4 linked regions of the Homo sapiens genome follow. The protein of the gene in region 1 purifies or fractionates together with the protein of each later gene. This does not show direct contact. Each region holds a gene or a part of one and is shown on either strand. Other genes may lie near its edges.

Region 1 (7,026 bases):
CTAAGTGGGAAGTGGGGGAATTAAGGCATCACAGATACATAACTTCTGAGTTCACACAAGTAGCTGGTGGAGTAGCTGGAATTTGATCACAGGTATTCTGACTACAGAACGTCTGTCTCTTTTGTGTCTTATTTCATTAAAAAATATGGAATGCTGTGGGGCTATTGTGGATTCGTACTTGCTGGTGACCTTGGGGAAGCTCCTCCTCAATTTCCTTAACTCCTTCCTTACTTGTTTTTGTGGGGATTCAGATAATTTGTGAAGCAATCAGATGGCGTATATGTTTAGTAAATTATATGCCTTAGCCTTTTTTTTTTTTTCATTGAGGATGAGGTCATTTGAAAGATTGTTAGCAGTTGAAGGAGGGTGGAAAAAAAAAAGTTCCACATAAGGACACTGCCCAAGCAAAGGTATAGAGATAGGAAAAGCAGAATACATTTGGTAAGGATATATGTTTAAGGACCAGACTGGTAAAGATAGATGGATACAGATTATGGAGATTCTTAAATGTCAGACTAAAGATTTTATATATGATTTTTAGTTAAGAAGAAACTCTCTTTATGGATAATAATTTGTGAACAGGTCCAATGGAAGAGTGGAAGCCTAGAAGTAGGAATACCATGCAATTTAATTATAGTAGTTGAGGCAAGAAGTGATGATCGTAGTGAAGGTATAGATTTGAAAGATGTTGACATTATAATGACATTGACACTGGGAACTGACCAGAGTATAGGCCTAGGACAAATTTTTGGGAGGATAGTGATGTTATTAACAGAAATAAGGATATTATCATGAAGAACAGGTTTTGGTGGAAGGAGATTTAGGAGGAGAGAGGATGATAGGGAGTTTACTTTTGGAGCTGAGGAGTTGTTCAGACGTTTGGAAATGTAGAATGAAAACTGGAAGTTCTGTGTATTCTATGAAAAGGGAAGAGAACAAATGCTTACATTGTAAGGAAATGACCTAAAAGTAACCACTCCTCTGTGGGTCAGAGTTTCACAAGAGGGATGTGACTCCTTAAATTACTCACAAGTACAGATTTCTCAATGAAGATGCACCCATTATTTTTCCCTTTAGTGTATTTTGATTCGTGTCCTGGGAGATCAGGAGGTAAGGTAGTGGGGAGGAAAAACTTTTAGACCTAGCAAGGCTCCCATTTATTCAAAAAATAGCTAGTAAATTGGAGGCTAGGGATTCTCACCGTAAGAATTTTGAGAGTCTGATTTTTGTGTGGTACCAGGCATTTATAAACATATGTTGAATGCTGAATTGTTGAACATTTGAACATCTCCAGATTTGTTATTTTTATTATCCTGTCTTTGTTACCTTGAATTGGTTAATAGCAAAACCTTTAGAATCAGAGACTCTGTGTGCTTGTTATGGGGGGCAACAATGAAAGTCAGGGTGCAGCTAATGAGATTGTATTTTACTTATAGCCAGGATTGTGGAAGAAGACACTCAAAGGATAAGAGGCTTACCATTTTTCCCATTCTGTAAAACCATGTTGATGACAATACCAATTCTGAGAGTTGTTTTGAAATACTGAGTTAATATATGAAAAGGGTCTGGTACATGATAGATAGTAATTGAGATGTTTTTGTTACCAGTATTATTATCTTCACAAGTGGGGGGCAAACACAGAGATCCCAGAACCTATTATAAGAAAAAAAGGAAAACATCTGGAGACCCTTTGTACTTGAAAAAGGGCTCAGGACTAAGTCATAGAAGGACTGTAGGTTTCCTTTCTTGGAAGGTTTTCTAGGGTTTGGTACAATTGGGTAGAGCATGATGTTGAATTAAGTAGTAAAATATATCCATCTCAACTATTTTCAGTTTCCTGTCAAGTTCTCAGTAAACCAACAGAAAAATGTTGTTGAGCATGAGAAGAAGGTTTACTTTTCTTGTCATACCATTTTTGGAAACATTACTTGGATCCTACTACTTAGGGGTTTTTCTGTAGCATTTATTCACTCAAATATTTGTTGAGTACCTTCTTTGTCAGGCACTGTTCTAAAGAGAAAAATCCTTGCCTGCATGGAGCTTATCTGCTAATGGGAGAAATAAGGTGCATTTTCATAATAGACGGTAATTAGATTTTTCTCGTACTATGTATTTGTACCTATTTAAGCAGATGGTAATAATGAATACTATACCAGATTGTAACTAATTTTGCAGAGCATTTGAAGGAAGGGACCATGTCTTTCTTATTCGCATTTGTCTCTCCCTTTTCCCCTTCCTCCCAGTGGAATGGCTTAGATGTGTTTAATGCTCAACAAACGTAGGTACTCATCAAATGTTTATTACAGGGAGAAGGTGTTAAGGCAGAGGCTACATCTTAAAGATTAAAGGAGTCAGTTAAATGTGGCATGTATTAAGGACCCATATACCCCCTAGATTGAGGGTGAGAAGAAGAGAATCCGGCTGGGCACTGTGGCTCATGTCTGTAATCCCAGCACTTTGGGAGGCTGAGGTGGGCAGATCACTTGAGACCAGAGTTCGAGGCCAGCCTGGGCAACATGGTAAAACCCCATTTGTACTAAAATACAGAAATTAGCCAGATGTGGTGGCGTGCTCATGTAATCCCAGTTACTTGAGAGGCTGAGGCAGGAGAATTGCTTGTACCTGGGAGGCGGAGGTTGCAGTGAGCCAAGACCGCGGCACTGTACTCCAGCCTGGGTGACAGAGCGTGACTCTGTCTCAAAAAAATAAAATAAGATAAAAATAAAAAGAGAATCCCCTGGCTTATCTATGAGGTTGGAATAGGAATAAAGTTATATTGTAGCTGAAAGCATCAACATTATGGGAGTCTGGGTGTCACCCAACATTCCCACTAATTAGCTGGGTGATTTTGCATAAATATCTTAACCTCTCAGTTCATTTCCTCACCTGTAAATGAAGTAGTTGGAATTGTCCAGTTAAAATCTGTTTTTACGACTTCTTGTAAAATATCTCTTGCACTAATGTTTCACTTCACTAACGTAGATAATATAGAGCCAAGCATGAGCTTCCATTGAATAAGCATCAAGCTAAATATATACTCTTAGTTAATAAACTAATGTTTAAGAAAAGATGTCTACAAAATTTGTTGATGCTATTTACCGGTAAGATTACATTGTAATTTTTTAAAATAGAGCAAAATATTACCTAATATATAGTTTCCCCCATTGCCATTATGTAAAGGAAAAATAAGCCATAGTATTTTAGACCTTAATAATGGATCATAATACTCACTTTCATACTTTAATTTATACAACAGTCACTTGCCTCTGATATTGTGCTAGATGCTAGGTATTGTATACAGAATTAGAAAATGTATAGCTCCTAACTTTAAGGAGCTTAAGGAATAATGGGAGTGACAGACCATTTAGTTGTGTTGCATTTTGGTGGCATAGAGAAGCATATAATGAGAGTCTGGGAGAAGAGAAAGTGCTCATGGTTACAGAGAAAAAGACTGGAGGAATGGCAAGGGACTAAGCTAAATATACAGAGACGAGCCAGTTTATGAAGAACTTTGTGCTAAACCACAGTTTAGTTCTGAGCTGTATTCTGAAAACTGCTTAATCTGTTAAGGAATTTTATGCAGGCAGTAACATAATCAGGCATTTTTATATCTACCTTTATATTCCTTTTAAGAGAAGGTGTTCCCTGAGGAAGGTATTTGTTATTTCTAGTTGTTTCAACGATGTAGATCTTCCTGAGGAAATCAGTCTTTTTAACTTTGAAATAAAGTCTGAGGAACATTGTCAATTTTGTGGTTATAGAGTTAATAATTATTAAATATTAATAATTATGAAATATTCAGACATTAAAACATTTAAATGTTTATTGCCACATTAATGTAAACTGAAAAGAAAACTGAAATTTTGGGATGTTTTGCGCTTTGATGTAAGAGAGCTCTTGGTCAGCTACAAGAATTTGGCTTAGAATCATTTTTAAGGAGTTAGAAATACGTTGACCTTGAATTGATTGAAAGTGAATGTAGTTCAGGCTCAGTTTCTTTCTTTCTTTTTTTTTTGTTTTTTTAAAGAGACCGTCTTTTTCTGTCACCTGGTATGGTCTCAAACTCCTGGCCCCAAGCAATCCTCCCTCCTCAGCTTCCCAAAGTGCTGGGATTACAGGCGTGAGTCACCACTCCCTGCCCGGGCTCTGTTTCTAATGATAGAAATATCCAGGTAAACTTTATAGAGGGAATGAATTTCCACCGGGAAATAATCCTAGTGAGGAGCTGGTGATAAATGAATATTTCTGAATGAAGTCATGAGGGAGAAACATCTACTTTATTTAGATGTGAAACACCTCATTAAATGTTGAAGAATACTTTATTTGCATACTTACTATGTTTGTCATTTACTCTTTTGACCCTCAAAGAGGAAGAGCTGCTTATAATTTCCACATTTATCCAACATGGATTATAAATGTTAATTGCTTTTTTTGGAAAAAAAATTGAGGTAAAAATTCACGTAATTAACCATTTTAAAGCAATAGTTCAGTGGCATTTAGTACCTTTGCAGTGTTGTGCAACCATCACTTCTGTCTAGTTTCAAAACATTTTTATCACTTTGAAGTAAAATCTCATACCTATTAAGCAGTCATTCCCTGATGCCCCTAGCTCATGGCAACCACATCTGTTTTCTGTTTTTATGGATTTACTTATTCTGGATATTTTATATAAATTGAATTTTCAATATTTGAGTTTTTATCCCTGGCTTCTTTCACTTAGCAAAATGTTTTCAAGGTTTACCCACATGTAGCATATATCAGTACTTCTTTCCTTTTCATAGCAGAAGAATATTCCTTTCCATGTCAGAAGAATATTCCTTTCCATGTCTATATATCAGTTTGTTTATCCATTTATCCATCGATGGATATTTGGGTTGTTTCCACCTTTTAGTTATTATGAATATGTTGCTGTGAATATTTGTGTCCAAGGATTTATTTGAGAACCTGTTTTCACTTTTTCGGGTATATACCAAGAATGGAATGCTGGGTCTTATGGTAATTTTGTTTAGCTTTTTGAGGACCTGCCAAACTGCTTTCCACAGTAGCTAAACCATTTTACATTCCCACTGGCAATGTGTGAGGGTTCCAATTTCCCTACATCCTTGCCTACACTTATTTTCTGTTTTTAAGAAATTATAATTGCCATCCTTATGGGTATGAAGTGGTATCTCACTGTGGTTTTGATTTGCGTTTCCCAGATTACTAATGATTTTAAGCATCTTTTCATGTGCTTGTTGGCCATGTGTGTATCTGCTTTAGAGAAATGTCTATTCAAGTTCTTTGCCCTTTTAAAAAACTACATTGTTGGTGTTTTTGTATTGAGTTGTGTTTTTATATACTCCAGATACTAGACTGTTCATTATCAAATATATAATGTGCAAATGTTTTCTTCCATTATGTGGATTTTTTTTTTCAATTTTTTGATAATGTCCTTTGATAGATAAATGTTTTGAATTTTGATGAAGTCCATTTTATTTATTTGACCCATGCTTTTGGTGTCATATCAAGAATCCATTTCCAAATCCCAGGCCATGAAGATTAACCCTATGTTTTCTTCCAAGAGTTTTATAATTTTACTCCTTATATTTAGGTCACTGATTCATTTTGTGTTAATTGTTGTATATGGTATAAATTCCAACTTCATTGTCTTGCATGTGAATAGTTGTCCCGGCACCACTTGTTGAAGACACTGTTCTTTTGCCATTGAATGGTCTTTGGCATCTTTAAAATCAATTGGCTATAGATGTATCAGTTTATTTTTGGATGCTCAATTCTACTCCTTTGGTCTATATATCTATCACTATGCCAGTGCCATGTTGTTTTGATTACTGTAGCTTTGTGGTAAGGTTTTGAAATTGGGAAATGTGAGTTCTCCAGCTTTGTTCTTCTTTTTAAAAATTGTTTGGCCTGTTTAGGGCCCCTTGCAATTCCATATGAATTTGAGAATCAGCTTTTCCATTTCTGCATAAAAGGCCATAGAAATTTTGATAGGTAATATATTGAATCTGTAGATTGCTTTGGGTAGTATTGCCATCTTAATAATGTTAAGTCTTTGAGTACCTGGATGTGTGTTTGATATCCTTCAGCATTGTTTTTGTGTTTTATAGTTTTCGGTGTACAAGTCTCTCACCTCCTTTGTTATATTTATTCCTGGGTATTGTATTCATTTGGATACTATTATACATGGAAGTTTTTCTTAATTTAATTTTTGGATAGTTCATTGCTGGTATGTAGAAACACAATGGATTTTGTGTGTAACATTTATTGCCTTTAACAGTCATTTACTTTCTTTTTTCCATGTGCAAGCTGAATCACGTGGGTAAATAAGAAAGTGGAAAGTGGAACACTAAAGAACTTGATCTGTAAGATGTCTGATTTCCCTGAATGTGAAAACTATGAAATATGTTTTTAGCATAGTGTTGAACTATTATCTTACTATACTTGGGCTATTCCATTTCTGGTATCACGTTACATATATTTGGTCATTATTAAAGAAGGTAGATCATTTCATTTTCTTTAGGTTTGGAGAGAAGTGTCAATACGTAATTCATTTTCAAAGTTACAATTATTTTGCAACTTAATTTTGATGTTACACAGAAAGCCTCAGGGATAAACCATATTTATCGCAGAGTCTGGTACAGAGATCCATGAATAATAAAGATAAAATTAGAACAGAAGCTAATTTGAATATGTAAATTACCATTAATATACATTAGTTTTTCTGTTTTTTCTTGAAGTTTCCAAATAGCCTTAAAATTTCATTATGAATAGAAATGTGAACAATTTCAACCTCATAAGTAATTAAAGAAATGCAAATTTATGCAATACTTGGATGATTTGGGAAGGGCAGTATTTCATGACACAGACTTTTAATTGAATCCTAGCTTCACTATTTAAGAGGTAAGTATTACTGGGCAAGTAACTGAACACTTAAAACACTTAAAAATAAGAGGAAATATTTATAAAGTGCTTGCTGTGTGTTAGGCACTGTTTTAAGCACTTTATGCTGTTGATCTAAGTTTTTAT
Region 2 (7,026 bases), on another chromosome or scaffold:
ACCTGAAGTGATCTGCCCACCTCAGCCTCCCAAAGTGCTGGGATTACAGGTGTGAGCCACGACGCCCGGCCTGTATTTAACAATATTATTTTAAAATCATAACAATAAGGCCTACAGAAGGCACCTCTCCATTCCCCCTATATTTTCAAGTCTCTTTAATACTTGAAAGGGACTCTAGTTCCTCTAGTACAAAAGGGAACTAGATTTGAGCTATGGCTCTCCTTGACAGAAGTTGCAAAATAGCAAATCTTTAACATATGAAAAGTACAAAACAACTCTAAGTGCTTGCAAAGAAAGGGTGCTAAGAGATCGCTGAAGTTTCCAAAAAGTATACAACCCTTTCATATGAAAGGGAGGGTGACTCAAAAGCATCAGTAAATACTGGAAGCCCCGTGAGGTTGTCAGGGAGTCCAAAGTTAAGTATCTAAAGAAGGAAAAGGGTTCCATGATGTTCCTGCACTAGGATGCTGATAGAGTCACAGAGCCATGTCAGATGGTGAGAGACAAAACTTTACTCCATTCTAATGTCATCCAAACTCAAGAATGCATTCACTACATTAGCCTGGAAAGTGGGGATCTGCCAACCTCAACAGAGTCAACTAAGACTGAAGACCCTATTGAAAAACAACAAGAAAGTCCTTTAGACAGCAATGCTAGCAACGATGGATCTAAAAACTCCTACTTCATCATGATGAAAAGGTTAATAAAGGATCATGGCTTAGCAATGAGCAGCAGTCTCCTAAAAAATCATCTCTCTCCAAGGGCCAGGGATCATAATGACAACAATCAGTTGAAGAAAAACCAGGACCAAGCAAACCAAAGACGCACCAGTAAACTGCACAGGGGACAGCATGTGGTAAGTTGAATAAAATAAACATGGCAATTCCTATTCCCTTGCTGGCTATTGCCCAAGTTTAATTTGGCATATGAGGACATAGGCCATGTCACAGTTATCCTAGCAAAACAAATCTGAGAACACCTACTTGGGGCCATTTTAATTCTGCCTCTGATAGTCTACCTTCCTATAGAATATCACCTGACCTTGAATTACATTACAGATCTCTTAGTCACTATATTACTCTTTAGGAAAGATATAAATTTTACTATCTAAGTCAAAGCCCCTGCGTCATGATTATTCCAAAGTTTCATTGTCACTGGCCTATGACTAGGAAACTAATTTTATAATCAGCATAAAACTATTTATCTCACCTTTGGCCAAGTAGCCAGTGACATCATTCTCCTATATCAAGAAATCAGTCTGTGAACAGATGAACCACGATATAGGCCTAGTAATAATCTTATGCACGTTAAAACTGTTAGTAGATCTTAGCAAAAACAAAACAAAACCCAAACTATTAAATCTATTAAATAAAACATGTTCTAGGACTATCTTAAGAGTAAAAAAAAACAAGAAACAATATGAAGATGTAGAGGTGGCTACAGATGCCCAAGGCTCTTGGTTTTCTAGTAACCCTAGTTTGGAAGAGAACTGCAAGAGAATATACCTTATCCATATGGAAGATCAAATCCAATTCACACACATTTTCGAAACACTTATCCAGAGTTTCCACAAAAACCTAGAAAACAAGGAGAAATAGATAAAGAAGAGAAATAGGAACACATTCACAGCTTTATCAATGTCACATCTGAAAGTAAAAGGGGCTGTCACAATACTATTTACTTTATGATAAATCTCAAAAATTAAAACACCTACCTTTTGTCTCCAGCATTAGCTGATCACCCTACTTATCTCGATTTAGAGGGAATAATCTAGGACAGGAAAACCTTGTTTTCAGCATAGCAACACAACCAGCAGACACATGTGGCTCTTTCCCCCTTTATAAGATGCTAATTTATGGTAGGGCATGGTGGCTCATACTTACAATCTCAGCACTTTGAGAGCCCAAGGCAGGAGGATCACTTGAGGCCAAGAGCTCACGACCAGCCTTGCTAACAAGACGAAAACCCATCTCTACTAAAAATACAAAAATTATCTGGGTGTGGCGACACGAGCCTGTTATAGTCCCAGCTACTTGGGAGGCTGAGGCACGAGAATAGCTTGAATGAGAATCATTTGAGGTGGAGGTTGCCATAAGCAGAGATCGCACCACTGCACTCCAGCCTGAGTGACAGAGTGAGAGTCTCTCAAAAAAAAAAAAAGAAAAAAGAAAAAAAATTACATAAAAGAATAACAAATTAAAAAAACCAACTACTTACAATACTATGTCCTCAATGAATACATGTACAAAAAATTTTTCATTATTACAGGGTTAACATAGCTGTGTTTTAATTTCAGCCAAAATTAACTTCAAAACATCTTCCCTTTTTAATTTTTTTGGTCAGTTATTTAGCCTACAAAATACCTTCCTATGAATAAATTTAATTGACGTGTTTACAACTTAAAATTTTTTTTTAAAAGCCCTGAGCTTACTTCTCTATAGAACCTTTTAACTTTTAATAAAACATAACAGAAAAGTGTACAAATGACAAGGGCACAGTTTAATGAATTTTCAGAATGAACACACCATGTAACTACAACCTAGGTATCTATCTATAACTGTTTAATTTCTCTCAGACAATGACCTCATTTAAACAATCTCATTGTCAGCAGTGTCATGAATTGTTCGGCACTGCATGAAAATGGGTCTTACTTGAGGCCAGCAAGTGACAGAGACCAGGCACACCGTTCCACTGTAGCACAAGATGGGTGCTCATAGGCAAACCACCCTGCAGCGGCTGCTGGGGAGACAGACCCACTTGCCATGAGGAACCAACGCACACTATTGGAGCTGATCCTGCTCTGTCTCTTCTCTATGTAAGTAAAGCTTTATCCAGTGTTTGCACTTTTTCCTTGCCGACTCTGATACCAAGATGCAATGGGCAAGAGCATTTAGATTCCTTTCTTGAGACTGGTAACCAGTGCACTGTATTTTGCCAGATACCAACCATTTTGGAAAACTATGACATTATGTATGCATGCTCTATGATCTAGGAATTCTACTCCCAGATAACATATCTAACAGATATATACATGTATGCCAAAAACCACATACAATAATTTCATATTAGTGCCATTCATAAATCTTTACATTTTTAACAGTGCCAGAATATTTCACTATAAGGACACATAGTTAAATGGGTCTATTTCTCAATCACTATGCTGGGTACTTGGTAAGCCCTTATAATCCTGCAGTTCAAGTCCTTCAGTTCTGGGAAATTTTATCGAATTATTTTGTTGAGAATTCCCTCCTTTCCACATTCCTAATCAATCTTTTTGGAGCTGCTTATATTCAAGTATTGGACCTCTGTCTGTCTTCTTTTTTTTTTTTTTTTGAGACAGACTCTCGCTCTGTTGTCCACGCTGAAGTGCAGTGCCACGATCTTGGCTCACTGCAGCCTCTGCCTCCTGGGTTCAAGCAATTCTCCTGCCTCAGCCTCCTGAGTAGCTGGGATTACAGGCATGCACCACCACGCCTGGCTAATTTTTGTATTTTTAGTAGAGACGAGGTTTCACCATGTTGGCCAGGCTGATATCCAATTCCTGACCTTAAGTGATCCCCCTGTCTTGGCCTACCAAAGTGCTGGGGTTACAGACGTGAGCCACTGTGCCCGGCCTCTGTCTTATTTTCTCATCTTTTCTCTCCCATTTTCCATCTCTGCCCATTCTGAGACAATTGATTAACTTGATTTTCTAATACTTCAGTTGAAGTGGGTTTTTGTTTGTTTCCATTTCCTCTCATTTTTTATTTCTAAGAGACCATTTTGTTCATTTTGTGTGAGCAACAAGGCTGTGAGTGTTTTTGTTTAGCACCCATTTAGCAATAAGACATAAATGGGTCTTATTTTATTTCTAATTAATAAATGGGTCTTATTATTATTTAAAATAAATGTCTTATTTCTCTGTGGCTTTTTTTTTTTTTTTTTTTTTTGAGACAAGGTCTCACTCTGTCACCCAGGCTGGAGTGCTGTGGTGTGATCTCAGAACACTGCAGCCTCAGCCTCCCGGGTGCAGGTGATTCTCCTGCCTCAGCCTCCTGAGCAGCTGGGACTACAGGTATGTGCCACCATGCCTGGCTAAAATACTTCGTATTTTTAGTAGAGATAGGGTTTCACCATGTTGGCCAGGCTTTCTCTGTAGCTTAAGAATAGGGTTTTGGGTTTTTTTTTTTTTTAAACTGTTTTCCTTTCTTTATATGGTGTCCATTTTTAAGTTGCTTTTTATTGTTTGTTCATTTTATCTCCTTCTTCTATGTTAGAGGTTTTCCGCAGATGTCTGATAATCCTTTGTTTTTCATTTGTTACAAGAATAAAAGGCTGATTGAAAGCTCTACAATCATGGATATTTCTTGCCCACCTCCATGGTTATTTGCTTCCCTAGCGAAATCTGTCTCACGTGTCCATGTGAAGAGACCACCAAACAGGCTTTGTGTGAGAAACAAGGCTGTTTATTTCACCTGGGTGCAGTCTTTCTAGGTATCAAAATTCATTGTAAAGCTTTGTTAACTAAAATAGTATAATACTAAGGCTGGGTGAGGTGGCTCATGCCTATAATCCCAACACTTTGGGCAGCCAAGACAGGAAGATCCCTCGAGCCCAGGAGTTTGAGACCAGCCTGGGCAACATAGCAAAACATCGTCTCCACAAAAAAATAAAAATAAAAAAATTAGCCAGGCATAGTGGCACACACCTGTAGTCCCAGCTACTTGGAAGGCTGAGGTGGGAGGATTGCTTGAGCCCAGGAATTCAAGGTTGCAGTGAATTATCATTGCACCACTGCATTCCAGCCTGAGTGACATACCAAGACCTTGTCTCTAAATAAATTTTAAAAATAAAATAAAAGTATAATTCTAAGATGGGAATATAGATCAGTGGGGCAGAATATAAATTACTGAAACATACATGTTTATAAAATGCAATTTTAAAAATAAGAGTCGTATTTTAAGTTGGTGGGGAAAAGACAAGCTAACTGATAATGTTGGAACAGTTATCCTTTGGGGGAAAAATAAAGTTACATATTTCAATGCAGACATAAAAATATCTAACAGATATTAATGAGCTAAATGTAAAAAAATAAATTAAAAAAGCAACGGCAGATCCCCTGGGTGCCATCCAGGCCCCCGGAAGGAGCTATTCAGTCTGTGGCAAAGCTTTGAGGTGGCTGGTACTGCTAAAAGCGGCACGTGGAGGTGCCCCCTAGCGGCCTGAGCTCTGTTCTGCGGCAGCCAGAGCACATGCGAGGAGAGCCAGACCACAGTTTGCAGCAGCACCATCCCAAAAGGCTGTTTTCATTAAAGATGTTTCATGAAACTAAGACTGGGTTCTCAAGATAGGGTAGTTATCCAGGACAAGATGGACTAGCCCCAGAAAAAGACATCCCCAGATAGTGGGTGGAAAAAGAACTGTCAGATGCATCTGTTTTTCTTACTCAAAATATTATTCAAGATCACAATCAAGGTCAAGAGAAAGAAAACAAGAAAGAAAACGAAGGACGAAAACACAAAGCGCATGCTGATGGGCAAAGAGGCTGAACTGAAGACATTGCAGACTCAGGTAGGAAAATAATAAGCCTATTTCATGATGAGGCAAGAAGACAGGAATCCTACAACAAATCCTCTAAGAAATACACTTCTGAGGAGCATAATGACAAAGAACATTATTCTGATAAAGGAAGAGAGGGACTAAATTCATCTGAAAATGGGCTGGGCGCAGTGACTCACGTCTGTAGTCTCAGTACTTCGGAAGGCCAAGGTGGGCAAATTGCTTGGGCTCACAAGTTTGAGACCAGCTTGAGCAACATGGCAAAGCCCTGTCTCTATAAAAAACACAAAAGTTAGCCAGGCGTGGTGGTGTGTGCCTGTGATTCCAGCTACTCGGGAGGCTGTGGTGAGAAGCTTGAGCCGGGGAGACAGAGGTTACAGTGAGCTGTGATTGTGCCACTGCACTCCAGCCTGGGCAACAGAGTGACATGCTGTCTCAATAAATAAATACATTCATCTGAAAATGATGAGGACAGACACAAACACAAAGAAAGCCATCAAGAAGCAGAAGTCACTCAAGATACAGGTCTCGTGAAAGGCATCATCGTAGTAGAGGGAAAAGAAGTAGTCTCAATCCAGAAGCAGAGAGAAGAACGATCATGATCTAGAAGCAGGAAAAGAAAACCATGGGCTGGACATGGTGCTTCACACCTGTAATCCCAGCACTTTGGGAGGCCAAGTCAGGCAGATCACCTGAGATTCAGGAGTTTGAGACCAACCTGGCCAACATGGCAAAACCCTGTCTCTACTAAAAATGCAAAAATTAGCCAGGCGTGGTGATGCATGTCTGAGGTCCCAGCTACTTGGGAGGCTGAGGCAGGAGAATCACTTGAACCCAGGAGGTGGAGGTTTCAGTGAGCTGAGGTCACACCACTGCACTCCAGCCTGGCCAACAGAGTGAGACGCCGTCTCCAAAAAGGAAAGAAAAAAAAAAGAAAGAAAGAAAACCATGGATCAGATCTTGCTCCTGTTCAAGATAAAAACTACATCTGTGTTGCGTGTGAAAAATAAGTAAATAAATAAATATGACATGCATAGGAAAGAAGCAGAAGTAGTACAGGAAGCAGAAGACAAGAGAGAAAGAAGAGCATTGAGAAACTAAGATTTAGCAGAAGTTTAAGCCAGATTTCCAGTTCATCTCTCTTCAGAGGCAGAGGCACAGCAAAGGATGCATAAGAAGCTTTAGCTGGGAGGATGGACTAGGCAAAGAAATTACAAGAACAGCAAGAAAAAGAAATAGTTGGGATGGGTGTTGGGAAAAAATTTTTTAAAAGAAAAAGAAATCATTGAAAAACAAAAACAAGAAATAGCTCCAGTTACTAGAGATTTTGTTCTCAATGTTGCTGCCCTGTTGGCATCAGGAATGCCAGTAACTCAGATAGCTATGGCAGCTCAAATGGGAGCCCTGCAAGCAACAGCTTTGGCAGAGACAGAACAGCTGTACCTAGGGATTATGACACAGCAGCTGGAAATCCAGTGAAATTTGCTG
Region 3 (6,620 bases), on another chromosome or scaffold:
AAGTCCCGTGAGAGCTCTGGGCCTTGAGGGACGAGCTGCTGCCCTCGTCTGGCTGCCTTCTCAGGGTCCCCAGGGAGGCAGGTGTGGGGCAGCGGGGCCGTTCCAGAACCTTCCTTCTCTCCCCAGAACCTCACGGCTTCACAGCCCAACTGCCAATGGAACTCTAGCCCTCAGCTCTCCCACTCCCGCAGGGCCCCCCAACTGCCTGCTTCTGGATGGATCTGAGGGGCCCCACTCCCGAGAGGGCGCAGACACGTGTCCTCTGGCAAAGGGGACTTCTTCAGCTGCCGAGGGAGGGGAAGGAGGCCCTGACGAGGCCTGGGCACGCCGGGAGGGACGCTGGGAGCAGGGAGGCCGAGAGCCCCAGGACACCCCGGACACAGCCAGGCCCACGTCCGAGCGGAGCCCGAGGCCTGGGCAGCGCCATCGGGGTGAGGGGCACAGCCGGGCTCCACGGGAACCCATCTTGCTCAGCAGCCCCATTAAAAGGCAAGAAGCAGCGATGTGAATCCTAACCGCTGATTTTATTTAACCGAATATATCCAAAATATGATCACTTCCAGGTCCTCAGTACACAACCACCACGAGGGAAACCCAGACCTAGGTTTCCGGCGCCGACTCTGAGGCCCGGGAGTTTTCTTCTTGCGTCACCCCAGCGTGGGCACCCCGGCCCGCCCCCCTCCACCTGGAGCGCCTCTGCCTTGCCCCCAGACCCACCAGCCAGGAGCCAGAGGAGGGAGGCTGAGGGGCGGGGACGAGGAAGAGGATGTGGCTGGTGCCCTGGGTGGCCGCAGCCGCTGTCTTTCACGCCTTTCTCACTCCACACGGTGCCCCGACCCCAGGGTCCCGAAAGTCCCAGGCTGTTGGACGTGGTCTGGGTGGGGTGGGAGGGACGACGCTGGCAAAGGCGGGCTGAGAGGATTTCTTTATTTCGCGTTCAGACCCAACACACTCGGACACCTTGGGGCCCTGTGAGGGCTAAGCAGGGTGGTGGCGTCAGCTCCCGGGGAGGCCCCACTCCCTGGGGAGGAAATACACGGCAGGGGGCCGCACCCAGCCCCCCACGGAGGGACCCGTGTTGCTCTAACAGGGACACTGAAGTTGCCTCTGCCGCCCCGTGAGGGGCCTGTGGCGGCCCCAGACCCAGCCCAGCCAGGCCAGAGGAGCCTCCCAGGGGCCCTCAGGTGGTGAGGTGGGGGCTTCCCGGCCCCGGTGCCCACCGGCCCTTCTAGCTGCCTGTGCTGGGCCAGGTGTCCTCTGAGGCCGGCAGGAGTCTGGCCCCCGCTGCACCTGCGCTTGGTGGCTGGCAGGGGCGGGGTAGGGAGGTCACCCTCGAGGCCGGGGTCCCCATGTGCTAGGGGAAGACCTGCCTTCCCAGCCAGTGTCCACAGGGCAGCAATTCCACGCTCTGAGGCTCAGGGACCAAGGCAGGGCTGGGTGTGGGGCCCAGACTCCAAGCTCTGGGGGTTGGGGGACCAAGGCAGGGCTGGGCATGGGGCTCAGGGCCTTGGAGGTTTTTCTCAGCTCTCAACATCACAGCACAGGGCCCGTGAGTCACCCCAGTCCTCTGGGCCTGTGTACCCAAGCCGGATGCAGGCCGGGGAGTGCACGTGGGGCTCCTCTGTGGCGCCAGTGTGAAGCTGCTCTCCGGGGCGGTCGCAGCCTCCAAACCCTGGTGCTACGAGTCCGTGCCTCAGGCCCAGGGACCACAGGCCGTCTGCTCATGGCTGAAAATGAGGCCAAGCAGCTCCCAAGTCTCGAAGACTCCACTGGTGTGGAGGCAGAGGGGCCCTTCCAGGGCAGGGCAGCCCTCGGGGCAGCAGCAGGGGCAAGGGCTCTGTCTCACGCACACGGGCACAGGCACGCAGGTGCCGGCCCTGCCGCTGGCTCCCAAGAGGCCGATAGCCCGGTAGGGAGGTCACACACACACAGCTGATCCCTGGAGGTAAAGAAACCTAGACGAGGAGAGTGGAGGCTGGGCCTGCGCAAGGAGGCGCCAAGGGGGGAGACCACTGCCCACAACAGGGTCAGTCCCGCGAGAGGGTCAGTTCCGCGCCTGCCGCCTGCCCGCCCAGCTGCAGGGTGCTCGCCATTGCCACTGCTGGGGAGCATGGTTTGGGCCGAGAAACCAGTGACTCCGGGAGGAAATGCAGAAGGGCCGGGGTGCCAGCGCCAGTGCCCATTATGGGCAGGGCTGGGCCTCACGTCTGGGCCAGCGAGAGCTCCTCCAAGCCTCTCTTTCCCAGGCGGTACCTGGCGAGGTCCTTCCTGGTCACCAACCCGACAACCTGCAGGACAAGTCCAGGCCACAGTGACACACGGGTCGGCTCCCGCCTGCCTGTGGAGCTCCCTGCCTTGTGTGTGGCTGGGGCAGCACAGGCAGGGGGCCCTGGGGGCTTCAGCACAGCCCCCGAGCTGAGCACGGGGCTGGGGAGGGGTGCAGCCATGGGGCATGGGCCGACTCGGTGCTGGGTCCTGTGCTTCCGTGTCCCCTGCCGGGAGCTGAGAGTAAGCACGGGCAGGAGGCAGAGGGGAGCCCTGCACGGCATGCCTGCACCCCCACCGCCCCCGCTCACCTGATTGCGGTTGTCCACCACCACCAGGTGCCGCAGGCCCAGGGCCCGGAACAGCTTGAACACCCGTGGGAGCGACGCCTCCTGCAGCAGGGGCACAGCTGTCAGTGCCCGCCCACACAGCAGAGGCAGGCGGGACCCTCACCCAAGCTGGCTCCCTGCACCCCCCACCACGGCGTCCAGGCACGTCCTGAGCCCCCACGCCCGTCTGGCCAGCCCCCTCAGCCCCTTGACTTCAGCTCTAAAGCCTGCCAGGCCCTTCACAGGAGACAGAGTCACCGAGTCCTCTCCGCTGTGGCCCCCCCCGGCTGCCCCTCCCCGAGGCTCTGGACCCCACCCCCTGCTGTTCAGTCCCAGGCCCCACGCCCATGCCCATGCCCTGCACATGCCTGGGGCACCGTGTAGGGGGAGGGGTTCATGAACTCGGAGAGGTCCATGGTGCACTCCCGCTCGTCCTGGGACACGTGGATGGACTGGATGGGTGGGAAGCGCGGGTAGGCGTCTCGGAAGTCCTTCAGCCTCAGGCGCCGCTGTACCAGGCCCAGGTTGGACCGCTCCACAAACACCTGCGGGCGGCAGAGCCCTGTGTCAGGCACCCAGGCAGCACCCCCGGGGCCCCCACCCGCCCAATGGCCCGGAGCCTGGCACGCACCTTGTGCTTTAGGAGAACGATGAGCTGGGAGCGCAGGATCAGGCCCTGGAGCCGGGCAGGCTGCAAGACAGGCCCGCGGTCAGGGCCACGGGCCCGAGGGTGGGAGGCTGCGCTGGAATGCTGTGTCGGGCCCCGCTCTGACCCTGTTCCGGCCAGATTTCCCATCTGGGCATGGGCCCCGTGTCGGTGGCTACCTGCTCACACCAGCCTCGCCATGGCATCCCACACGCACAATGCCACGGGACCCAAGGATCGGCGACAGGGTAGCGGGGCCTGACCGCGCACAGCAGAGAGCCAAGGGCCCAGGGATGGTGGCTTTGCTGCAGGGCAGATGCAGCCCCACTGGGTCCCAATAAAAACCAACCTCCAAACACCCAGTGTCCACGTCTAAAAGACACACAGCAGTGGCCGAGCTGTGTGTCCTGTCAGGGCCTCCTGACAAAGTCACGGCCCCCAGTGCCACGGCTCTCAGCCCAGCCTGGGTGCCAACCCCAAGACCCTGCCAGGCCGCAGCCCCCCCCACCAGCCTCAGCGTCCACACAGCCCTCCATGGCTGCACACTCAGCTTCCGGCACTCCTGGAACTGCCAGTGCACCCAAACGTGCAGCTTCCCCATCCTGCAAACCTTGCCGTGTGCTTCCCACCAATGGACTCGACAGAGGTCACATAGGCAGGACCCTGTCTATGGGGTGCCCGGTACCTGGGTGTCATCGGCATGCTCCACCACGGGGAAGCCGTTGTGATTGGACGCCGTGTCGCTCAGCACGTCCACAATGACGCCGACCTTCTCACGCCGCCTCAGGCAGGTCACTGGTGTGCTCATCACCTCCCTGCCGGAGGAGCCCGGCCACACATGCCCGTCACACGCCACCAACTCCCACAGTTACCTCTGCGGGCTGGTGAGGTGTGAAGCCGCTGGACAGGAAACGCGGGGCTGCCTGGAGCCCGCAAGCCGTGCACCCTGCCCCTGTGCAACAAGAGGCCGCTGGACACCCTCCCCACCCACAGGTGTCCTGGGCGCTGTACCTGGCAGTGAGTGAGTGTGAGGTGACCGGGGCCTCCCAGTGCAGGAAGGGCACACTCTGCAGCTGAATGTGCATGTCGTACAGGCCCTGCGGGCGGGGCGGGAACACAGGGCTTGAGGAGTCCACACCCACCCCTGGAGCCCCGAGCCTACCCCTGGGAGCCCAGAGGCCGCCCCCAGAAACCCTGAGCCTACCCCCCGGGACCGGCTGTTTGGAGGCTCACAGGGGCCCCTCCCCTATGGCAGCACCCACGCTCTCAGGGTGAGGCTTCGAGGCCCTGGCGCACCTCAATGAAGACGTCGCCCACGATCTTGGCGGTCATGAGCACCAGCATGATGGGGAAGCCGTAGGTCACGTTGCTGGTGGCCTCCATCATGATGACGGTCAGGCTCAGTGTCATCCGCACAATCCCGCCTGCGGGAGCCATCATGAACCCCAGCACGTCCACCCTCCTGGCTCAGGGTCACGTGGCCACTGCCTTCTCTGCAGCACCCATCCCATCCACCTGCTCCCAGACCCTAGCCCCGCAAGGACAGCCATGGCCCCCTCCAGACCCCGTGGAGCTCCCCACCCATCGGGCAAGAGCTGGGACATACCCAGCTGGGCAGCAGCTCCCATCAGGGCGTATTTGCCGGGGTCCGCCCAGATCTGTGGGAGGTGACACGGAGGAGGTGTCAGTGTGGTGGCAGGCCCAAACCCACCAAGATACACAGACGGAGGAGGCCCTGCCCAGGCCCAGCAGCCCCACAGCCAGGAACAAACCTCGTGGCCGCGTACATACACACAGAACAACCTAGCACAGTACACCCTGCTGCGGAGGCTGCATCCTTGGCCTGAACCAGGCGCTCAGCACCCGAGCAACAGGGGAGTGGCAGGCATGGAGGATGCAGAGGGCACAGTCACCACGCAGCAGCCCAGGCCAACTAGGGAGCACCGTCCAGCATGAGGAGTGAAACCCCGGCACACACGACACAGAGAGCCCCGGGAACATCAGGCTGGGCCACAGAACCCAGGCATGGAGGCTGCAGAAAGCGGGGCACGAGGGTCGGTGGGCACAGGGTTTCCATTCTGGGATGACGGAACATTCTAGAAGTGGTAGTGACGGCCGCACTGCCTCGTGAACGTGAGAAACGCCGCTGAACTGCCCTCTTTAAAACGATGAGTTTTACGGTATTTGAATCATGTTTCAATTTTAAAAACCAAACCAAACCCTTGTGCGGAGGGAGATGGGCAGAGCACACGGGCCTGGGGAGCAGGAGTGGGCGCTTCCTGCCGGGGATGAGAAGCATGGCCGGGGGCTTCCTGCCAGGGCCTCTTACAGGTTTTCAGTCTTATTTAAGCGACTGAAATGAGAAACAGAAGACACATAAGAGAACCCAGTCCCAGCAGAGGCAGGCAGAGAAGGAAGGCCTGCGGGGGCTGAGGTCTGGAGGGCAGTGTATGCCGCTCTGGCCCCCGGCCTCACAGAGAGCAGCCCTGGCCGGACATCCACCCCATGGAGTCTAGAAACAGCTCTGCAGCAGCCCACAATCACCTCTGCTTTTCATCACATTCTCAAGAATAAGGACACGAGCCTCCGCCCCCTACCTTCGCCTGGTCCAGACTCCACACATGGGCTGCGCTGCCACAGTACACGCTGCCACCACAGCAGGACAACGCCCACGGCCCGTGAACCACGCGAGGACAACGCCCACGGCCCGTGAACCACGTGAGGTGCGACACTTTTGTCCTGCCCTGGGACTTCTGCTCCGGCCCGCGATGCCGCAAGACCTGGCTCAGCTGCAGGGCCCCACAGCCTCCCCTCCGGCCCCACTCACCGCCGCCCCCGTGAGGTAGGACAGGGAGATCCCAAAGAGCCGGCCCCAGGCAGCCCCGATGAGCAGGGACGGGATGAAGACCCCGGCAGACACCGTGAGCCCGTAGGTCCAGCAGGCCAGGAAGAAGTAGACCAGCGTGAACAGGCCGAGGGTCAGGGGGTTGTAGGAGCCTAGGAGAGAAGAGGGGCTGACGGGGCCTCCACGACTCCCGCCTCCGCAGGACTGCCCTGCCCCGCTGCCCAGTCTCGGGCCTCACAGTCACCTTCCAGGAGCCCAGCAACCTGAGCTCCCGAGCCCAGCGGTCCCCAGAAGGCTCCCTGTTCTCAGCCTCCCTGGGAAGCAGAAAGGCTAAAAGGATCCCATGGGGAGGCCACAGGGGAAGAGGCTCTGCGGGGCCCTGATGCCAGCAGAAGCAGGAGCCGCGTCCAGCGGGGCGGCCCAGCTGGGTCTAGCAGCGCCAGGTCTACACTCCATGGGTGTGCACCGTGGTGCAGCTCGCAGCCTGGCTCCGGGAAGAGGGTGCCCCCCACAGCCTGGGGTTCCTTTCCTGGAG
Region 4 (7,026 bases), on another chromosome or scaffold:
GGTTGGGAAAAGAAATAAAGCGAGCTCAGATCAGATGAAAAAAAAAAAAAAAAAAAAACCCAGCAAGGAAAAAGAGACACTTAAAGGGAAAGAGTCGCCATGTTTAGCAGCTTTTTTAAAGATCTCGTCAATTTCACACAGAACGCGCTCGCTGGGTCCCAGCCCTCGTCTTTTGTCCAATTCAGTCGCAGCAAAGATCTTTTGTTCTAACTCAGCGTGAAAAGAAAAACTTTCTTTAAATGCAATAAACTTAAACCGAACTCAAGACTCTAAACAGATCCTCCTCCGGCCACTCTAAACATATACAAGGGGGTTTGTTTTAACCGGTTGAAAAATTTTGGGTCCTGTTTTTCTGCCTCGCAGACCCCAAGCTCATTGCTTAAACTTAAGAGTGCGAGAGAGATTTCCAACGTCTAGAACACATGCTTAAAGCATAATAAAACAGGGATTGTCTTTTGCTTTGAAAATCATAAATTATAATTTAATGCCAATAATAATTTACAACAAATGGCTGTTTACAATAAACTAACACAAAACAAACAAGGAAAAGGGCCTGTGTTTTACTTATTAGAGAAACTTCACACACTCACATGGATAGCACTTGCAAGAGGAAGAAAATCAACAACAACCGACAAAACCTCGAACTAAAGGTCAGCAATACTGTGCCGTAAGAACATACTTGTATTTATATATGTATATATCTACAGAAATAAGTGAGAGTCAGATGGAGAACTCTGCACAAATCAGATTTTACTGGTCTGCATGTATTGACTGGATCTGAATATTAACGTTTAATACACTTTACAAAATTATCCCTGTTCTTTCACCTCCCTCACTAGTCCTCCCCCCCCCCCACCAATTAGAATTAAACCACAACATGATGAAGTACTGGCGGTGGGGGGGTGGGTTGGAAACCTTGAATAAGAACAAAATTGCAAGCTCCCAGCACCGAGCTTCCTCCAAACCAGGAAAAGAGAAAGAGGAAAAATGAAAAAAAGACTCCAAAAGAAATAGTTACTACTTCCAAATCAGCACACCCTGTAAAGTTTCCCTCCTTCCTTCTTTCTTTTTCTCTGTCCTGCTTTCTCTTCCTTAATTTGGCTTCTAAGGACAAAGGATCCCAAGAGCAGTACAGATTGTAGCCACACAATCTGAAATGTCAAAATGTCGATGTGTTTTTATGTACATAACTCCAATGGAAAAGATTCCCTTGACCCTGTGGTCATGCTCTCACAGACTGAAGGTAAAGGGGGGGAGGGGAGAGGGAAACCAACTGCAAGTTATCATATATACATTAAAAGTAGACCTTTCAGTCTTAGAACCTGTATCACTGAATTTGAAACTCTCTCAACAACCACGCTAGAGTAGAATCACAGAATATTTTAAAAAATCGTACCTACTTAAGGAAAAACTCACTGCAAACAACTGTCCTCTAGTTACAATGCTGTGATTAGCTTGCTTGAACGATCTTCTGAGTAACTGTCAGAAATGTACAAAAGAGTATTTTTTTCTGATCATAAAATAGATACTGATCTCAAGATTTCTAATACTTTTTCACAATACCTTCCCTAAGCAGGCACTTAAGTGTGACAAATATAAGGGCCTTTTTTTTTTTCCTGGAAAATCCATTTTTAATTAAAAGGAGGATTAGGTGAATGGGGGTGGTTTACTATATCAGTATGGCACTTCCTAAACCATAGATAAACCATTAACTTCAGCTCCCCCCCCAACACACACACACCCAAATTAAACAGGCAAATACAGTAGTCCACCTTTGAACAAACTGACTGAGGGGAGTAAACAAATGCCCCCCCCCACCACCCCCCGCCCGGCCAGCTAAGCGAGAGCTCACAGGGGCTCTTCTAGATGTAAAGACAGTGAGTGGGGACAGCCAGGTTTCAGATATCAAATAATATTTTAATTTCTGAATACTTTCAATTTTCCTTGGAATATAACACACAAAGACTCGACCAAACAGTTCAGTTATTATAACTTTTACAGTATACAGAAATGTTGCACTTAAAAAAAAAACCTTCAGTTTTTTTAAAACACAAACTGTAAACTCTAAGATACTGAATCAATCACGTTACCTATAAGTGCCAACAGTGTTATTTTTGTCATGCTGATTTCAATGGTATTTTTTAAAAAGGGAAAATATCAACAATTATAATACAAAGGGTTTGCAAATATACAAACAGATATAGGATTTTCATAACAATTCAAGAACTAAGCGGGACCCAATTCAAATTACAAAAGTTCACTTTTTATTCAAAACCTCAGCATGTGTCTTGGACACATTCCTTGGCTGCCAATAAATTCCACAGTTCATTCTCTTTCTTAAAATATTTTTTAAAAGCTAGGTTTGTCATGGTTTCTTTTGGGGAGGGGCAGGGTAGGGGAAGTTAAGTGTTATATGTGGTTCCTCCAGTTCTCTAATTAGAGTGCTCGACTTCACCTAAAAATTTTGGTCACCACTTGTAAGTGCGTTTCCATCATCTTTGAGTTGCCTTTTAAAGTTTTATGTCTTCCTATGGTATTTTCATGGACTCAGTTTTAATTCTTGCAGAACATATATTTTAATGATACACAGTTTTTAAGAAGCCAAGATTATATCAAAACTTATTATAGAACCACAGAATAAACTGGTTTGGAACCAGAAAAGTACAAAAAAGAACAGCTAGAGGTACATAGACACAGGACAATTAATAATTTGGAAAAAAAAAAGACTTACTTTCTCCATTCTGCTAATTGTCTCCCAATCTCCTTAAATGCACTTTTAGCAATATTTTTCAAAAATTTACCAAAAAAAGAAAAAGACTAATTTCCTTTTTATACAAAAATGATAAGTAGCAAGTTGTTCTGACCGACACAGGAGTTTTTTTTTTTTTTTAATGCATTCTGTAAAAGTTCATTTGACAGTCTTTTTTTTTTTTTTTGAAATTCACAGTCCATTAAATTCTTCCCCTCTCTTCTTTTAGCAAACTTGTAACATCCTTTTATATCCTTTCTTAACAGAAGGAAATTAAGCAAACAAACCAGTCTTTTGCCTTTTCTTTCTCTGTTTCACTCCCCCTTCTTATTTTATTTATTTATTGAATTGCCATATACGGCCAGTTAAAACTGCTGCCGGACAGTAACATATCCCGGATGAGGGTTTCGATGGGGGTTTTACCTACCAAACGGACGAAAAACAATTGCTCTATGACTGAGGAGGAGACGGTGCGGAGGGAAGGGAGGCGAAGCAAAAGCTTTCCGAATCTCGTCGGCTGGTTGGGGTACTGGCTCCTAACGTATTCTTCCAAAGCACACTGAGACTTTTCCTGCAAGCTTTCCACATGGGCTACATCAGAGAGACCACAGGCATCTGGAAGAAAGTTTAAAAACAGAAGAAGAAGAAGAAGAAAAAGAAGAAGAAGAAGAAGAAGAAGAATTCAGTCATCAGATTAAGAGGTTTGAATTGGGTCACATGAGGTGTGTGCACAGAGCTCTGTCAAACTGCCCCAACCGGAGTTGGAGCAAATGTCTATGTACTGAAAACTTAAGGGGGGGAGGCGGGGTGGGGGAAGAAAGAGCAAGAGATGGTCCTGAGGAAGTGTTTGCTTTAAAATAAAACATAGCTCAGTGTGCTACAGGCTTTCACTGCCCGAGTCCTTAGCCTGGGTCATTGAGAGGCCCAAGCAAAAGTGCATTGGGTCTGTCTGGCCCAAGTCAGTAAACAGAAGAAACCAAAACTACCAGCACTCTCTCCCCTCCTCCTCTGTAAATAATAGTTTGGCTTATAATTATATAGGGGTTGGGGGTTGGGGGTGGACAACCTGGCCCAGTCCCGAGTAATGGCGTCCACGATCCAGCCTCAGATTCCCCCCAAAGAGGGCGACTCATTTTTCTCCAGTCTTTGAAACTGATTTAAGTGGCCCTTTAAAACTGATCTTGTCAGTTTAGCCTATTGAAGGGCAGCCATGCAAACCGTGATCTCTCTGTTCATTTGAGCTGTTTCTTTTCCCCCTTTTTCTTCTCTCTCCCTTTTTCTCCTACCCCCCTTTATTTTTTAAAACCCAGGTCCCTCCGAGAAGCATCCCCCCTCCCTGTTATCTTCAGGAAAACACTTTTCTTTTTTGATACGTGAAAATACAGTAAGTGCCTTTGAAATGAGAAGCTTCTTGGTAAAGGCGGTTCAGGTTGTGACCTGACCTTTCAGGGCTCCCCATACAAGACTGGGGTTAACATATGCATATTGTGAGTCATTAAAACAGATATTCGAAAATCTCCACCACCACCTCCACCCCAAGAACCAGAACACACATGCAACCTCCTCATATGTATATCTAGGACTCTGCATGTCTACAGAATGTAGAGGTGTCTGTGGACAGGAACTAAAAGATCTGTTTGCACAGGACTCCTTCCCTCGGCATCCTCGGAACTGTGTGTCTCCCTCTGAATCAGATAACAGGAACCTTTATCTCTTTGTGAGGCGATTTGCATTCTCCACACAGGCCTCCACATTTTGCAAATAGTCATAAATTAAACTGTTAACGACAGTATCAGGCATTTTTTTTTCCTTGAAAGACCAAGGGTAAGGCTAAGAGCTAGCAATGATACCAAGAAATTAACGACTACCTCCATCGTCCAAGAAGGTGGGCTGGGTGTTGGGTTGTGGGACAGGGGTGAAGGTGGCTATGAGGTAGGGAGATATCTTGTCTGTATATCTGCAGCAGGCAAACGTTCTAGGTATGAGGGGCACTCGAGAAAAATAATCCCTATCCAAACCTCTGCAAACAGCTTCCCTGCCCAGACACTGGCCTTTAATTGATTACCTAAGGACTTCCAAAGGCAGAATTTGGGGTGGCTGTGCTGGGAGGTTTTATGTGGAAAGCAGCAATGTACAAGACAGCAGTTTGAGGACTAAGAAGCTGCAAGCTGTTCAGCTAATGACTTAGTTCCCCAGACTTCTTTCGAACAATAAGGAAGAGATTGTGGACCTCCTTTATGTTTGCCACATAAACTACACATCTCTCCTCGTTTCCTGTTAACAAGCTTAAAAAATTGTAGTGGGTGACTAGGTTCCAAGCCCTGCTAACGTCCAGATGTTTGTTATTCTTAATCGGGAACCCCTTTCCCCTCTCAGCCATGACAAAAGGATCAGCTGACAACTTAGTACAAGAATGTGAAAGGGGGTTGGTGATTTCCATCCACCTGGGCTATGCTGAACTCAGCCTGGAGGCAGCCAAAAAGCTCAGGTGTGGCCCAAAATGGAAAGCCAGACACCTTCAAAAATCATTTTGCCTCAAGTTAATTAGTATCAGCTCTATTACTCACACAGGTTAAACTACATGCAAACTAATTAGATTGCATAATGCAGTCAATGATGGTTTTATATCTCTAGCAACATCCATATCCAGCCCAAGTTGGCATACACTTTGGGTTGTTTGAAAATTGCCTTAAGTGTTTGCTTGGGCAGGGGAAGCAAGAGGCCAGAGTCTTCAACCTCCTGCAGACATTCTGAAGAGTTATGACGGTCCCTTTCCTCCTGTTGCCCCATCCTGACACATCTTTTCGCCTCTCCTGGCAGTCTGCATTATTCCAGTAAGAATATGATTTTGAAAATTGCTGCCCTCAGGTTGGATTTGCCTGGAGCTCCAACTCCTATTGAGTTAGCAGGCAAACTTTTCCCTGCAGAGACAATGTCAGGGCTGCTCCACTGCCCAGGGCATCTCCTGGAGGCCCAGCCAGGGCGCTAGAGAAAACCGAGGGCTTGAGGAGATTCCCTGGGGCCCAGCAGGCCCGGGGGGCCTGGGCTCAGGAAAGGGAGCAGGAGAGGGCATCCCAATCTGGATACTGCAGGTGGGGGAAACAGGCAGCAGAGGCTGCCCTATGGCCCATGTGGGGAATCTATCTGAAGCATCCTTCCTGCAATCCAGCCTTCCTCTCCTCTCCCCAGGACAGGCCTGGTAGTGCCCAGCAGCTATAAAAAGTTCCCACTTTAAGTTGCACTCAACAGTTTGGCCTTTCAAGGAGCAGACTGGGTTTGCCCTGGGGACTCCCAAGTTCTCTGGGCCCCAGCTCTGGGCTAGGAGCCCGTGGGCACGAGAAGACAGGGCTCCTTCCTACCTGAGGTGAACAGGACTATGGCCTTGAGGCAGCTGTACTCGGCTGAGTCAACGTGCAGCGCCTTGAGCTTCTCCACTTGCTCTTGGAAGATCCGTATGTGGTCCATAAAGGCGACCACCCGGTCGGCGGACATGGGCGAAGCATGCAGGCCGGCGGCGGCCAGGAGCGGGGCGACGTGGAGGGGCATGGAGCACTGCGCCGCATTCAACACAAACAGCTCGCTCCAGGTGAGGCGAAGCAGGGCCACCTGGTCCGTGATCTGCAGGTCGGGGAAGAAGGGGATGTTCCGGGCCCACTCGACGGCGCTGAAGAGCATCCTCGCGGCCAGTTCGCAAATGTTCTCGATACCCATGATGTTGTTGGGCTGCATGCATTGGCTGCCGAAGCGCGACGTGGGATAGGGCTCCGCGCGCAACAGCAGGGAAATATATCCGGACAGGTACGAGTGGCAGTTGAGGGGATCCCCGTTGGTCAGCGCGAACTGCCCGTGGGTCGGCTGGGTCGGCGGCATCCTGCCCCTCTGCACCGCTGCGGGGAGGAAAGGAGACACTCCACAGTTAATGACCAGCCTCAGTCCCCAGGTTCCCCGGCGGGGTCTGCCCCAGCCCGACCCCCACCTGACCCAGGCCCTGAGCAGCGCAAGAACCAGGCAGGCCTGCCACAGAGCTGGAGTCGCCAGGCTCTTGGCACCATTCCTTTCAAACCACCACCCAGGCGAGCTCTGAGGGCCAGAGGGGCACACTTGCCTCCGAGGCCCGCTCGGGGCTGGTCCGCCGAGGACCCAGAATTGGCCACCTTGCCTCGGGGTCCCCGGCGCTGTGGGCGGGATGTAGCATTCTGAGGGCATCTTTCTTCTTTACTGCTAAACAGCTGATATTTCTTATTGATTGGAGGAGAGGGAGCGGGAGGGGCGAGTCT

Evidence for each region.
Region 2: the proteins of RNF13 (region 1) and AP3S2 purify together in Homo sapiens (affinity purification with mass spectrometry; 3 studies listed by BioGRID and IntAct, with this or other methods). This does not show direct contact.
Region 3: the proteins of RNF13 (region 1) and CLCN7 purify together in Homo sapiens (affinity purification with mass spectrometry; 3 studies listed by BioGRID and IntAct, with this or other methods). This does not show direct contact.
Region 4: the proteins of RNF13 (region 1) and NR2F2 purify together in Homo sapiens (affinity purification with mass spectrometry; 3 studies listed by BioGRID and IntAct, with this or other methods). This does not show direct contact.

The regions. Positions count from the first base shown.
Region 1 is NC_000003.12:149,816,212-149,823,237, forward strand, and holds part of RNF13 (E3 ubiquitin-protein ligase RNF13 isoform 1 precursor), read left to right. Parts: intron 1-1,075; exon of another isoform or gene 1,076-6,362; intron 6,363-7,026. UniProt on the Homo sapiens protein: E3 ubiquitin-protein ligase that regulates cell proliferation. Involved in apoptosis regulation. Mediates ER stress-induced activation of JNK signaling pathway and apoptosis by promoting ERN1 activation and splicing of XBP1 mRNA.
Region 2 is NC_000015.10:89,869,970-89,876,995, forward strand, and holds part of AP3S2 (AP-3 complex subunit sigma-2), read right to left. Parts: exon of another isoform or gene 6,824-7,026; intron 1,578-6,823; coding exon 1,506-1,577; intron 1-1,505. Other genes in the region: ARPIN-AP3S2 (uncharacterized protein LOC100526783), read right to left, coding at 1,506-1,577. UniProt on the Homo sapiens protein: Part of the AP-3 complex, an adaptor-related complex which is not clathrin-associated. The complex is associated with the Golgi region as well as more peripheral structures.
Region 3 is NC_000016.10:1,444,430-1,451,049, forward strand, and holds the end of CLCN7 (H(+)/Cl(-) exchange transporter 7), read right to left. Parts: intron 6,238-6,620; coding exon 6,068-6,237; intron 4,899-6,067; coding exon 4,847-4,898; intron 4,665-4,846; coding exon 4,537-4,664; intron 4,338-4,536; coding exon 4,252-4,337; intron 4,056-4,251; coding exon 3,926-4,055; intron 3,286-3,925; coding exon 3,226-3,285; intron 3,140-3,225; coding exon 2,963-3,139; intron 2,658-2,962; coding exon 2,577-2,657; intron 2,289-2,576; coding exon 2,202-2,288; 3' UTR 506-2,201; downstream 1-505. UniProt on the Homo sapiens protein: Slowly voltage-gated channel mediating the exchange of chloride ions against protons. Functions as antiporter and contributes to the acidification of the lysosome lumen and may be involved in maintaining lysosomal pH.
Region 4 is NC_000015.10:96,333,686-96,340,711, reverse strand, and holds the end of NR2F2 (COUP transcription factor 2), read right to left. Parts: intron 6,948-7,026; exon of another isoform or gene 6,855-6,947; intron 6,637-6,854; coding exon 6,109-6,636; intron 3,365-6,108; coding exon 3,090-3,364; 3' UTR 454-3,089; downstream 1-453. UniProt on the Homo sapiens protein: Ligand-activated transcription factor. Activated by high concentrations of 9-cis-retinoic acid and all-trans-retinoic acid, but not by dexamethasone, cortisol or progesterone (in vitro). Regulation of the apolipoprotein A-I gene transcription.